Regions from separate parts of the Homo sapiens genome. Here region 1 is linked to region 2. Evidence: fine-mapped expression QTL. A gene starts in region 2. The other region holds a variant in brackets. All regions are shown on one strand. Distances are from middle to middle.

Region 1 (5,302 bases), 31 kb after region 2:
TCTCCGTGCAGACCCGGCTTTAATCCCTGGGGCAGCCAGTGAGGGGCATTCAGGTCCTACCGTGTGCCAGGCAGCCAGCATGCAGGTAACTTGGGGCTCACGCCAGAGGGGTGACGGGGACAGTGCATGACAGCACACGCCTCCACCGTCTCCCACCCTGGGACGCCCAGAGAGGGGGGTGGCTCTGTGCAGCGGGGGCAAAGAGTGGGGGCATTGTTCAGAGAGGCAGTCGGTGGAGGCTCGGGGGCGGAGGCCTCAGGTGCCCTTGCTTGCCTGGTGGGCCGACAGGAGATGAGGTGTGACCCTCGGGGCTGCTGGCTGTGGGGCTACTGGGCTGACATGGCCCCATTACAGGTGCTCAGAGCAGCCCTTTGGAGATGGGATGGGCGAGCTTGGGATGGGGCTTTGCGGCCCAGGGGGCAGCCGAAGGCTAGTGTCTTTTTTTTCTTTTTTCTTTTTTTTCTGAGATGGGGTCTCGCTCTGTCCCCCAGGCTGGAGTGCAGTGGTACAATCACAGCTCACTGCAACCTTGACTTCCTGGGCGCAAGCCATCCTCCACCTCAGCCTCCTGAGGAGCTGGGATTGTAGGCCTACACCACTATGCCCTGCTAATTTTTTTTTTTTTTTTTTTTTTTTTTGAGACGGAGTCTTGCTCTGTCCCCCAGGCTGGAGTGCAGTAGCGTGATCTTGGCTCACTGCAAGCTCCGCCTCCTGGGTTCACGCCATTCTCCTGCCTCAGCCTCCCGAGGAGCTGGGACTACAGGCACCCAACACCACACCAGGCTAATATTTTGTATTTTTTAGTAGAGATGGGGTTTCACCGTGTTATCCAGGATGGTGTCAATCTCTGGACCTCATGATCCGCCCTCCTCGGCCTCCCAAAGTGCTGGGATTACAGGCGTGAGCCACTGCGCCCTGCCAGGACGTGCTAATTTTTGTATTTTTTGTAGAGACAGGGTTGCTGGCATGTTACTCAGGCTGGTCTTGAACTCCTGGGCTCAAGTGAGCCTCACGTCTCGGCCTCCCACGTGCTGGGATTGTGAGCCCCCGTGCCCGACCTTGTCTTCCTTTGTCTTTCCCAGGCTGCTGTGGGCTTTTCTCAGGGCTGCCCACGTTCCCTCATTTCTTGGGCCCCCAGTTCTGCAGGCCAGTGTGGCTCGGGCTGGGGCTGGCTGCAGCATCCCATGTCAGGAGCTTGCAGACTGGACAGCAGGTGCTGGGGTCCAGGTGGATGGGCATGTGTCACCCACGGCGCTCAGCTTGGCCCCTGGTCCAGTCCTTGACAGGCAAGGGTTCTGGGGTGCCCAGCTGGAGCCCAGCAGTGTCCTGTGACCCCTCTGTCCCACCCAGATCTCTCAGCCCCAGTGAATGGCGAGGCCACATCACAGAAGGGGGAGAGCGCAGAGGACAAGGAGCACGAGGAGGGTCGGGACTCGGAGGAGGGGCCAAGGTGTGGCTCCTCTGAAGACCTGCACGAGTGAGTGTCCCGGGCCGTGGGGTTTGGACTCCTGAGCGGCAGCGGTGTGACGCGCACCCTGGGTCCGAGCCGCTCCTCCTGTGCCAGTCCCTCTGGGATGGGTCCCAGGGATGTCGTCCTTACTCGGGCCTCCCACCTTCACAGCTGACCCCAGGGCCCCGCTGGCTGGCACTTCCGGCGGCCCCTACAGAGAGGCAGCTCCAGGGCTTTGAGCTGCCTGCCCCTGGCCTCCTGGGAAGGTGGCTTCTTGCCGAGCCTCCAGGGTGGCCCAGGTAGGTAGGCCCCGAGCACGGGCACCCGGCTATCTGACGGTGCCTGTGCCCATCACTGTGGGCTGCTGTCTGGTACAAGGCTCAGTGGAGTCACTCACTTACCCAGCAGCTGCCTTGTGCTATGCCTGGCTGGCGCCAGCGTGGGGACCCTGGAGATGGTTGTGGTCTCTAGTGGCAGAAGACAGGCAGATAGGAGGGCGGCACTCGAGCCTCAGGTGCCACAACGGGGGTACACTCCTCGGTGCCCATCCCACCCAACCGCCCTACAGGCAGGGCAGGGGCGGGAGGGCATCCTCACACCGCCTTTGCTGTTCCCACCAGCAGCGTACGGGAGGGTCCCGACCTGGACAGGCCTGGGAGCGACCGGCAGGAGCGCGAGAGGGCACGGGGGGACTCGGAGGCCCTGGACGAGGAGAGCTGAGCCGCGGGCAGCCAGGCCCAGCCCCCGCCCGAGCTCAGGCTGCCCCTCTCCTTCCCCGGCTCGCAGGAGAGCAGAGCAGAGAACTGTGGGGAACGCTGTGCTGTTTGTATTTGTTCCCTTGGGTTTTTTTTTCCTGCCTAATTTCTGTGATTTCCAACCAACATGAAATGACTATAAA[T/C]GGTTTTTTAATGAAAAAAGAAATCACTTTTATTGGCTTGGTTTTCTAGCATTGCTGGTGCAGTGGGGGCCTGAGCTGGGGCGCAGGCGGCAGTGTCACTGGGCCCGTTTGGGACTGGGTTGAGCCATCAGGCCACCGTGAGAAGCGACTAAAAGGCACTCTGGGCCCAGCCCAACCCTGAAAGGCCAGTGGCAGGAGAGCTGGGCGGGAGCAAGCTCTTCCCAGGAGACAAGAGGGACAAACCAGGGCATCTAAGCTGTGCTGCCTGCGCCCTGCCCCGCACCCACGAGGCTGGGGGGTTTGATGCTTCCTGCATCTGGCAGCCCAGGGTCCAGGCAGGTGAGCAGGTCCGATGTGGGGAGGACGAGGGTCCGCGAGGCTAGGCTGGGAGGGTGGAGACCAGGCCTTCCCTGAGAGCCGCTGCTAGCCGACAGTGGTCTCCAGCGTTCAGGGAGCATGGGCCTCAGGGGCCAGCCTCGACTCACCCCAGCTGTGTCACCCACACACCGTGTGACTTTGGACAGGTTCCCCTCCCACTCGGGGCTTCTCTTTCCTCCTCTGCATAAGGGGCTGTCACGTGGGCACGGTCCCAAGCAAGTCACCCCGTGCTCCGAAGTTGCTCATTCCACAGTGGCGTCTCGTGTTTGTCGTCCTGCCCAGCGTAGCCGAGTTGCCTCCGTCCCAGTAAGAATTAGGCTGTGGTGTGGCGGGAAGGGACTTCCTGAGCTGCGGCCCCATGCTTGGTTGGCTGGACGTGAGCTGCAGTCACTGTGCCTGATTTCTGCAAATGGCTGTGTCTGGCATCCTAGCCTCCGATGGCCATGGGTGTCGGGCTGAGGAGAAGGCTTGGGAAGGCTCCTGACCCGTCCCCTCTCACGGCCCGTCACCTGAGGCAGTCCTTGCCGTGCCAGCTTCCCCGGTTCAGAGCTGAGCTGAATGCCCCGGCCCCTCACGGCCCCTGGTGCACACGGTGACCCCTGGGGCCCCTCCACCCTTCCTCCCCCTGGGTCTGGGGTTCCTGGGCTCGTGTCCTAGGAGAGCATGGAAAGGGGACGACAAGGTTCTCTTACCGGGTGAGTGGGGATATGGCTTCCTGGGGAGGCCGGGCTGAACGGCTCCTCCCCGCTGGACTGAGCGCAGCCACGGCACGTCTCACACCCGACCTGAGCCTGCCAGCCTCCACGACCTGGGCTAGCCTGAGAGCACGGGGCCCGGCGGCCGGGTCCGCCACCACCAGTGTCTCTGATGCCTGCAGCCTCCCCAGCCCCGCTTCCTCTGCAGCCCGGCGCTTGGGTGGGCCTGAGGACCCAGGGGGAGTGTGCGGCGGAGGAAGGGCTGTGCCATAGGCACGCAGCCTCTGTGGCTGTTCCCAGCCCTGTCTGATCCCTCCATAGGGCACAGTTCCCTGCGGGGAAGTCCTTTGTCTGTGTTCTCCAGGGGCAGCTGCTGGGCCCAGCCTCCCCAGGGGCCTCAGAGCCCCAGGTGCCTGGGGCAGGCCTGTGGTGGGCAGCTGGAGGCAGCAGCAGCCTGTTTGCTTGTTTTTTGCACCCCCCACCCCCTGCAAACTGCTCAGTCTCAAGCCAGGCTGGTGCAAAGCCCCAGCTGTGGCTGCTGTGGCTCCTGGCAGCTTTGTCCCCACCGTGAGGCCACCCCGGGGGTCAGCAAAGGCAGTAGCAGCCTGCCTTGGGATGATGATGGCAGTGTCGCTTTTTCTAGTACTTTCTACTATGAGGGAATGTGGTTCTTAAGACCCTCAAGGTGTGTGTGCTAAGGCCGGAGACCCACTTTCAGCATGAGAACGGAGCTGCCCGGAGCCTGGGATGCCACAGCACTGCCTGCACCGCTGATAGCTGGGGGCCCGTGCTGCAGGACTGGAAGAGCCCTGCTAGATATAAAAGGGTTGCTAGCGGGGCAAACAGATGCCCTTCCAGGCTGGGCACGCTGCTTTTTCTCTTTCCTAATTGCAGTGCTTGCTTGGGGACTTCAAGGGAAGGCTCTTGGCTGGTGGTCTGAGTGACCCCAGGCTCCGAGAGGGGCAGGCAGCGCTGGGGAGGAGGTGGGAGATGCAGGCAGGCCCGGAGCAGGGCGTGGGGTGGCTCAGTTAAGAAGGTCACTGCCTCCGCAGCCCCTCGGCGCTCAGCCAGCTGCAGCCCCAAAGGTCTAGGGCTTTAGGGAACCGATCCAGGTTTGGGGGCGGGGAGAAAGTTCTGAGGCAGCTCCTCCCTGGACAGAGCAGGGCGACCCCGCGCCGGGCCTGCAGGCTCCTACAGCTACTGCCCGCCAGCGGGCAAGGCGAAGGGCCCTACCAGCCAGCTGAGCGGGGGATTGTGCTGTAGGCCCTCCAGCAGCTGCTCTAACCCCTGCCAAGCCTGGTGCACACCCTCGCGGCTCTGCACCAGCCGCTCTGCGGGCAGCTCCTCTACAGAGCCAGCTGAGGCCACGATGCCATAGAGCTCACAGAGGCTGTGCCGCGCCCGCCCCACTGGCTGCTGGAGCTCGGCGGGCAGGCCCTGGAGGCTGGAGACCAGGCCACTGTAGGCCGTGTGCAGCTGCCGGAGAAGGCCGCAGACCCTGGACAGAACCCCGGCATCCCGCTCCTGTGGGAGGAAGGCGCAAGGTGAGTGGAGACCCATGGGCGGGGTGGGGGGACCCTAGCCCTGTGCCAGACCCACCTCCTGGACAGCAGCGTCCTCCGCACTGGCACCTGAGCCCTGGTCCAGACGTGGCTGCCCTTCTGGAGCCTGCTGGGCCTTTTCAATCTGGAGAGAGAGTACAGTGGGGAAATGATGGCTTCTTGGCAAATGACCTTTCACAACCCCCACCTCCCCCTCCCCCAGGGACCTGGGCACATTCACAGTCCTGGGAGAAAGGCCACGAGTTCCAAGTCAGTTGTACCACAGTGGGCGTGTTGTCTTGCAGAAAGAGGCAATAGTTCAAACTTCCCCATGAGGTCA
Region 2 (5,325 bases):
GATTACACGCATAAGCCGCGGCACCTGGCCTATGTTTAATTTTTATTTTATTTATTTATTTTTTTGAGACGAAGTCTAACTCTGTTGCCCAAGCTGCAGTGCAGTGGCGCAATCTCGGCTCACTGCAACCGCCCCCTCCGGGTTCAAGCGATTCTCCCTGCCTCAGTCTCCTGAGTAGCTGGGACTACAGGCACACACCATCATGCCCAGCTAATTTTTGTTTTTCAGTAGACATGGGGTTTCACTATGTTGGCTGCCCTGGTCTCAAACTCCTGACTTCGTGATCTGCCCACCTCAGCCTCCCAAAGTGCTGGGATTACAGGCGTGAGCCACCGCGCCCGGCCTATTGTATTTTTTTGAAACAGGGTCTAGCTCTGTTGCCCAGGATGGAGTGCAGTGGTGCAATCTCAGCTCACTGCAACCATTGCCTCCCTGGGCTCGATCCTCATTCCTCAGCCTCCTGAGTAGCTCAGAGTAGAAGTGTGCGGATCATGCCCAACTGATTTTTATATTTTTTGTAGAGATGGGGTTTAACCATGTTGCTCAGGCTGGTCTCGAACTCCTGGGCTCAAGCGAATTTTCCACCTCAGTCGTGCTGGGATTACTGGTGTGAGATGCCATGCCAGGCCTTACGTTTCAGTTTTAAAGAAATGGTCTTTGTTGATCCATATTTCACATGCATAGGGATGTTTTTTGAGAATAAAATACTCTCTTTGTATCCTCTGATCAGATCCCCCCAATAGTTTCCCAAGAAGTTAAAATAAAACCCAAACTTCTCATTTATGTTTGTAATGTATTGTGATAGGTCCTCTACGGACCCCTCCAGCCCTCCAGCTTTATCTGTTTCCCCTACTCACACACAGTCATCCTAGGATCAGATGGGTTTTTTGTTGTTGCTGTTGTTGTTCTTGTTTTTGCTTGTTTGCTTTTTCTTTTCTTTTCTTTTTTTTTTTGAATCAAAGTCTCGCTCTGTCACCCAGGCTGGAGTGCAGTGGCATGATCTTGGCTCACTGCAACCTCCGCTTCCCGGGTTCAAGTGATTCTCGTGCCTCAGCCTCCCGAGTAGCTGGAATTACAGGCGCCTGCCACCACGCCTGGCTAATTTTTTGTATTTTTAGTAGAGATGCGGTTTCACCATGTTGGCCAGGGTGGTCTCAAACTCCTGACTTCAAGTGATCTACCCGCCTCGGCCTCTCAAAGTGTTGGGATTACAGGCGTGAGCCACCGCGCCCGGTCTCGTTTGTTTTTTGCAACGGAGTCTCGCTCTGTCACCCAGGTTGTAGTGTAACGGCGTGATCTCGGCTCACTGCACCCTCCGCCTCCCAGGTTCAAGTGATTATCCTGCCTCAGCCTCCCAAGTAGCTAGGAGTATAGGCGCCCACCACCACGCCCGGCTAATTTTTGTATTTTTTCTAGAGATGGGATTTCACCATGTTGGCCAGGCTGGTCTCGTACTCCTGACCTTAAGTGAGGATCAGACGCTTGTTTTTGCTCTTCCCTCTGCTCCTCATGCCCTCCCAGGGCTCGCCTCACTATCATGTCCAACTTCTATTCATTCTCCCAGTGTCTGGTTAAACTCACTTCATCCAGTAACCCTCTGTGATCCCCCAGGAGAGAAGAAGTCGTCTCCATTATTCAGCTTTTTTTCCTCAAGCACCCTGGTTCATTTTAGTTCTTACCATGGATCCTAATTACAAAAAACAAAACAAAACACAGCAACATCAACAAATTTTAAAACTTAACATTTCTTGGCCCTGTTATACTTGATTCCTGGAAGGTAGAGTTTTGTTTTTTGTTTTTGTTTTTTTTTTGAGACAGAGTCTCGCGCTGTCGCCCAGGCTGGAGTGCAGTGGCACGATCTCGGCTCACTGCAAGCTCCGCCTCCCGGGGTCAGGCCATTCTCCTGCCTCAGCCTCCCTAGTAGCTGGGACTACAGGCGCCTGCCACCACGCCTAGCTATTTTTTTTGTATTTTTAGTCGAGACGGGGTTTCACTATGTTAGCCAGGATGGTCTCGATCTCCTGACCTCGTGATCCACCCACCTCGGCCTCCCAAAGTGCTGGGATTACAGGCGTGAGCCACCACGCCCTGCCGGAAGGTAGAGTTATAGCTTTTTTTTTTCTGCTCTGTCACCCAGTCTGGAGTGCAGTGGCGCGATCTCGGCTTACTGCAACCCCCCGCTCCTGGGTTCGAGTGATTCTCCTGCCTCAGCTTCCTGAGTAGCTGGTATAGGTGCGTGCCACCACGCCCAGCTAATTTTTGTATTTTTAGTAGAGACGGGGTTTCACCATGTTGGCCAGGCTTGGTCTCAAACTCCTGACCTCGTGATCCGCCCGCTTCGTCCTCTCAAAGTGCCGGGGTTACAGCCGTGAGCCATCGCGTCCGGCCGAGTTATAGCTTCTAATACTTCCTGTATTTCCTGTTGCCGGGCTCAGTCTAGAGCAGGGTCCTCACAATCATTATGGGCCCCATCTTCCAAGTGCAGAGAGCGAAGCCCAGGACAATCAAGTGACTCGGCCCCACGGTATTCAGTACATTTTTCTTGAATGAATGAATAGGTCTGTGTGGCGTTTTGGGGCCCTGGCATATAGTAGGTACTCAGTTAAGTTTTTAACTAAGTGAAGAAATAACTATTTTGTGCATTTTGTGGCTGTTTATACTAAGAGCTCCCCCGGAGCCTGCCCCTTCCTCTAAGTCCCGCCTCCTCGAGCTGGCAATCGCCCGTCCCTGTTTTATGTTGTATCGCTCTTCTTTCGATAGCCAATGGCCGACGTTCCCGCTGAAGCCCCGCCTCTTGTGATGGCCAATGCCTGCTCCCTACCTTGAGGCGCTTCTCTTGTGGTATCCAATGGCTTGCATATCTACTTTAAGCCTCTCCTCCTGAGCGGGAGAGGCTGTCAATGACCCGCCCATTGCGTTAAGTGATTGGCCTTCTTTTCTGCGGTATCCAATGTTCTGCCCTCCTTATATCCCCTTCTCTTGTGGAGGTCTATGTCCTGCCTCTTTCCCTTAAGCTCCACCCCTTCACTCCCTTAGAGCGTCTGTTCGTCTCCTCCCACCTTTCCCTTTCACCTCCCATAACCTCCCATTAGAGTCTCTGGGTTACGCCCCTTGGGTCTGTCCGTTATCCAATCCCGTTAACTGCTGTGCTCCAACCTCTGTTCTTATTGGTCGCCTCCCTTCTCTGTCCCCTGCACGTGGTCCTGATCGACGGCTTTGCCGGCCCGTGACGGCCGGAGGGCTGAACTTCCGTTGGCGCAACGCCCAATAAGCGCGCGTCGGCAGGCTGCCCAGACAGCCTCCCCCGCCCCCTCGGCGTCCCGCTCCCGCCCCCGGCTTCGCCTCCCGCTGCCGCCGCCGCCGCCGCCGCAGCCGCTACCGCCGCTGCAGCCGCTTTCCGCGGCCTGGGCCTCTCGCCGTCAGCATGCCACACGCCTTCAAGCCCGGGGACTTGGTGTTCGCTAAGATGAAGGGCTACCCTCACTGGCCTGCCAGGGTGAGGCCGCGCGGGAGATGGGGCCGGTGGGGGGGGGGGGGGGGGCAGCGGGGGCCCCGGGCCGGAGGCGGGCACTGGAGGGCCGGGGTTGTCCTGGGCCTGAAGGAGCTGCGCCCCGGGGGTCTGGGGTTCATGGGGTCTGGGGGTGTCCGAGACCCGCAGCGGCCCCGCCCTGGGGGTCTGGGGGTCCTGGGCCGCAGGGAGCTGCGCCCTAGGGGTCTGGGGTTGTCCGGGGCCTGCCGGAGCCGCGCCCCGGGGTCTAGGGATCCTGGGCCTCAGGGAGCCCCGCCCTCGGGGCCTGGGGGTCCTGGGCTGCAGGGAGCCGCGTTCTTGTGGTCTGGTGGTGTTCGGATCCTGCAGGACCCGCCGTCTGGGCCTGCAGGAGCCCCTCCCGGGGTCTGGGGGTCCTCGGCCTCAGGGAGCTGCGTCCTGGGGTTCTGGGGGTGTCCAAGCCCTGCAGGAGCCGCGCCCCGGGGTCTGGGGGCCCTGGGCCTCAGGGGGCCGCGCCTAGGGGTTCTGAGGGTGTCTGCGGCCTGAGAGACTCTCGCCCTTGGTGTATGAGGGTTTTGGGGCTCAGAGAGTCGCTCCCTGGGAGTCTGGGGGTATCCTGGGCCCGAGGGAGTCGCACCTTGGGGGTTTGGGGGTGTTTGGGGCCTGAAAGAGCCGCGCGCCGACGGTCTGGGGGTCCCGGGCCCGAGGAAGCGGTGCCCTGGGGGTCTGGGGCCTGATAAATTCTCACTCTGGGGGAATGGCGGTCCTGGACCTGAGGGAGCTGCGCCGTGGGGATCTGGGGGGTGTCCAGGGCCTGAAGGAGCTGCGGCGCCAATGGTCTGGGGGTCCTGGGCCTGAGGAAGCTGCGCTCTGGGGGTCTGGGGCTTCTGTGCCTGAGGGAGCTGCACCATGGGGATCTGGGGTTGCCCTGGCCCAGAGGGAGCCACGCCTCGTGTGTCTGGGGGTGTCCAGGGTGCCTCAGGGAGCCGTGCGCAGGGTGTCTGGGAGGGTCTGGGACCTGAGGGACCCTCACCTGAGGGCCTGGGGATCCCAGGCCTGAGGGCTCAAGGTTCAAGTTTGAGCAGAACTGCGGAACTTGAGATTTGGGGTCAGATATGGGGGCTGAAGCACTCCCTTGTGGGTCCTGGAGAAGCCCAGTTTTGAGGGGCTGGGGGGCCGAGGGCCATGTGCTAGGGGTCCAGGGTTGGAGGAGGCAGTCAGGGGGGAAGGTTGAGGGTCAAGGCTAAGGGAAGCTGGGACCTCTGAGTGAGGGGCTGGGGGTGGGGGAATGGGGCTCGGGGCTCTGTTCACGGGGTCACTGGGACTCGGGGAACTGGACCTTAGAATGAAGTTGGCATCGGGACTGTTGGGGGACCCTGGGGATTGGTCCCCTGTGGGGAGGAGGATGTAGAAGCTGGTTTTGGAGGGACTTGAGGGTGGGGTGGTCCAACCCCAATGCTTGAAATGGAGACAGGCCCGGGCCCAGGGAGTGGGAGCGCTTCTGAGGGAAGGGGGCTGGCCGAGGGGACCTTGGATGCCCCTTTGGTGGAAGCTGGGGTCCCGACGACCTGGATAGTCCCAGGTGTCCTGGCCTGAAGGATATTCCGCACCTTGGAGTCCCAGGTGTGGAGGGGGTGAGTTCCAGGCCCTGAGAGGTACAGGCCAGCGGGAAGCAGGGACCCCAGGCTATTGTCATCCCCAGGTCTTAGGGCTGAGTCTCCCAGGGCTGAGGTTGGTGGAATTTGCCGGGCAGGACTGAGGAATTTGGCACTGGGGGTGGAAGGCTGGGGCAGCAGGGAGGGGCTGTGGAGGGGGACACCAAACGGTGCTCTGGACCA

Evidence for each region. PIP is the estimated chance that this variant, and not a neighbour inherited with it, causes the effect.
Region 1: its variant is the best candidate, but not a certain one, in a credible set for the expression of HDGFL2 in skeletal muscle (GTEx, PIP 0.84).

The regions. Positions count from the first base shown.
Region 1 is chr19:4,499,841-4,505,142 of GRCh38, forward strand. HDGFL2 (HDGF like 2) reads left to right here. Exons shown (of 16, transcript NM_001001520.3): 15 at 1,351-1,477; 16 at 2,071-2,367. The coding sequence ends at 2,170. PLIN4 (perilipin 4) reads right to left here. Exons shown (of 8, transcript NM_001367868.2): 7 at 5,021-5,107; 8 at 2,352-4,945. The coding sequence ends at 4,619. Among named protein-coding and RNA genes, the nearest start is that of PLIN4, 16 kb to the right of the region's middle. The variant T/C (reference allele first, on the strand shown) is at 2,349.
Region 2 is chr19:4,468,927-4,474,251 of GRCh38, forward strand. HDGFL2 (HDGF like 2) reads left to right here and starts at 3,371. Exons shown (of 16, transcript NM_001001520.3): 1 at 3,371-3,496. The coding sequence starts at 3,425. RefSeq lists enhancers at 2,017-2,186, 2,447-2,796, 5,286-5,325 and silencers at 3,297-3,476, 3,507-3,566.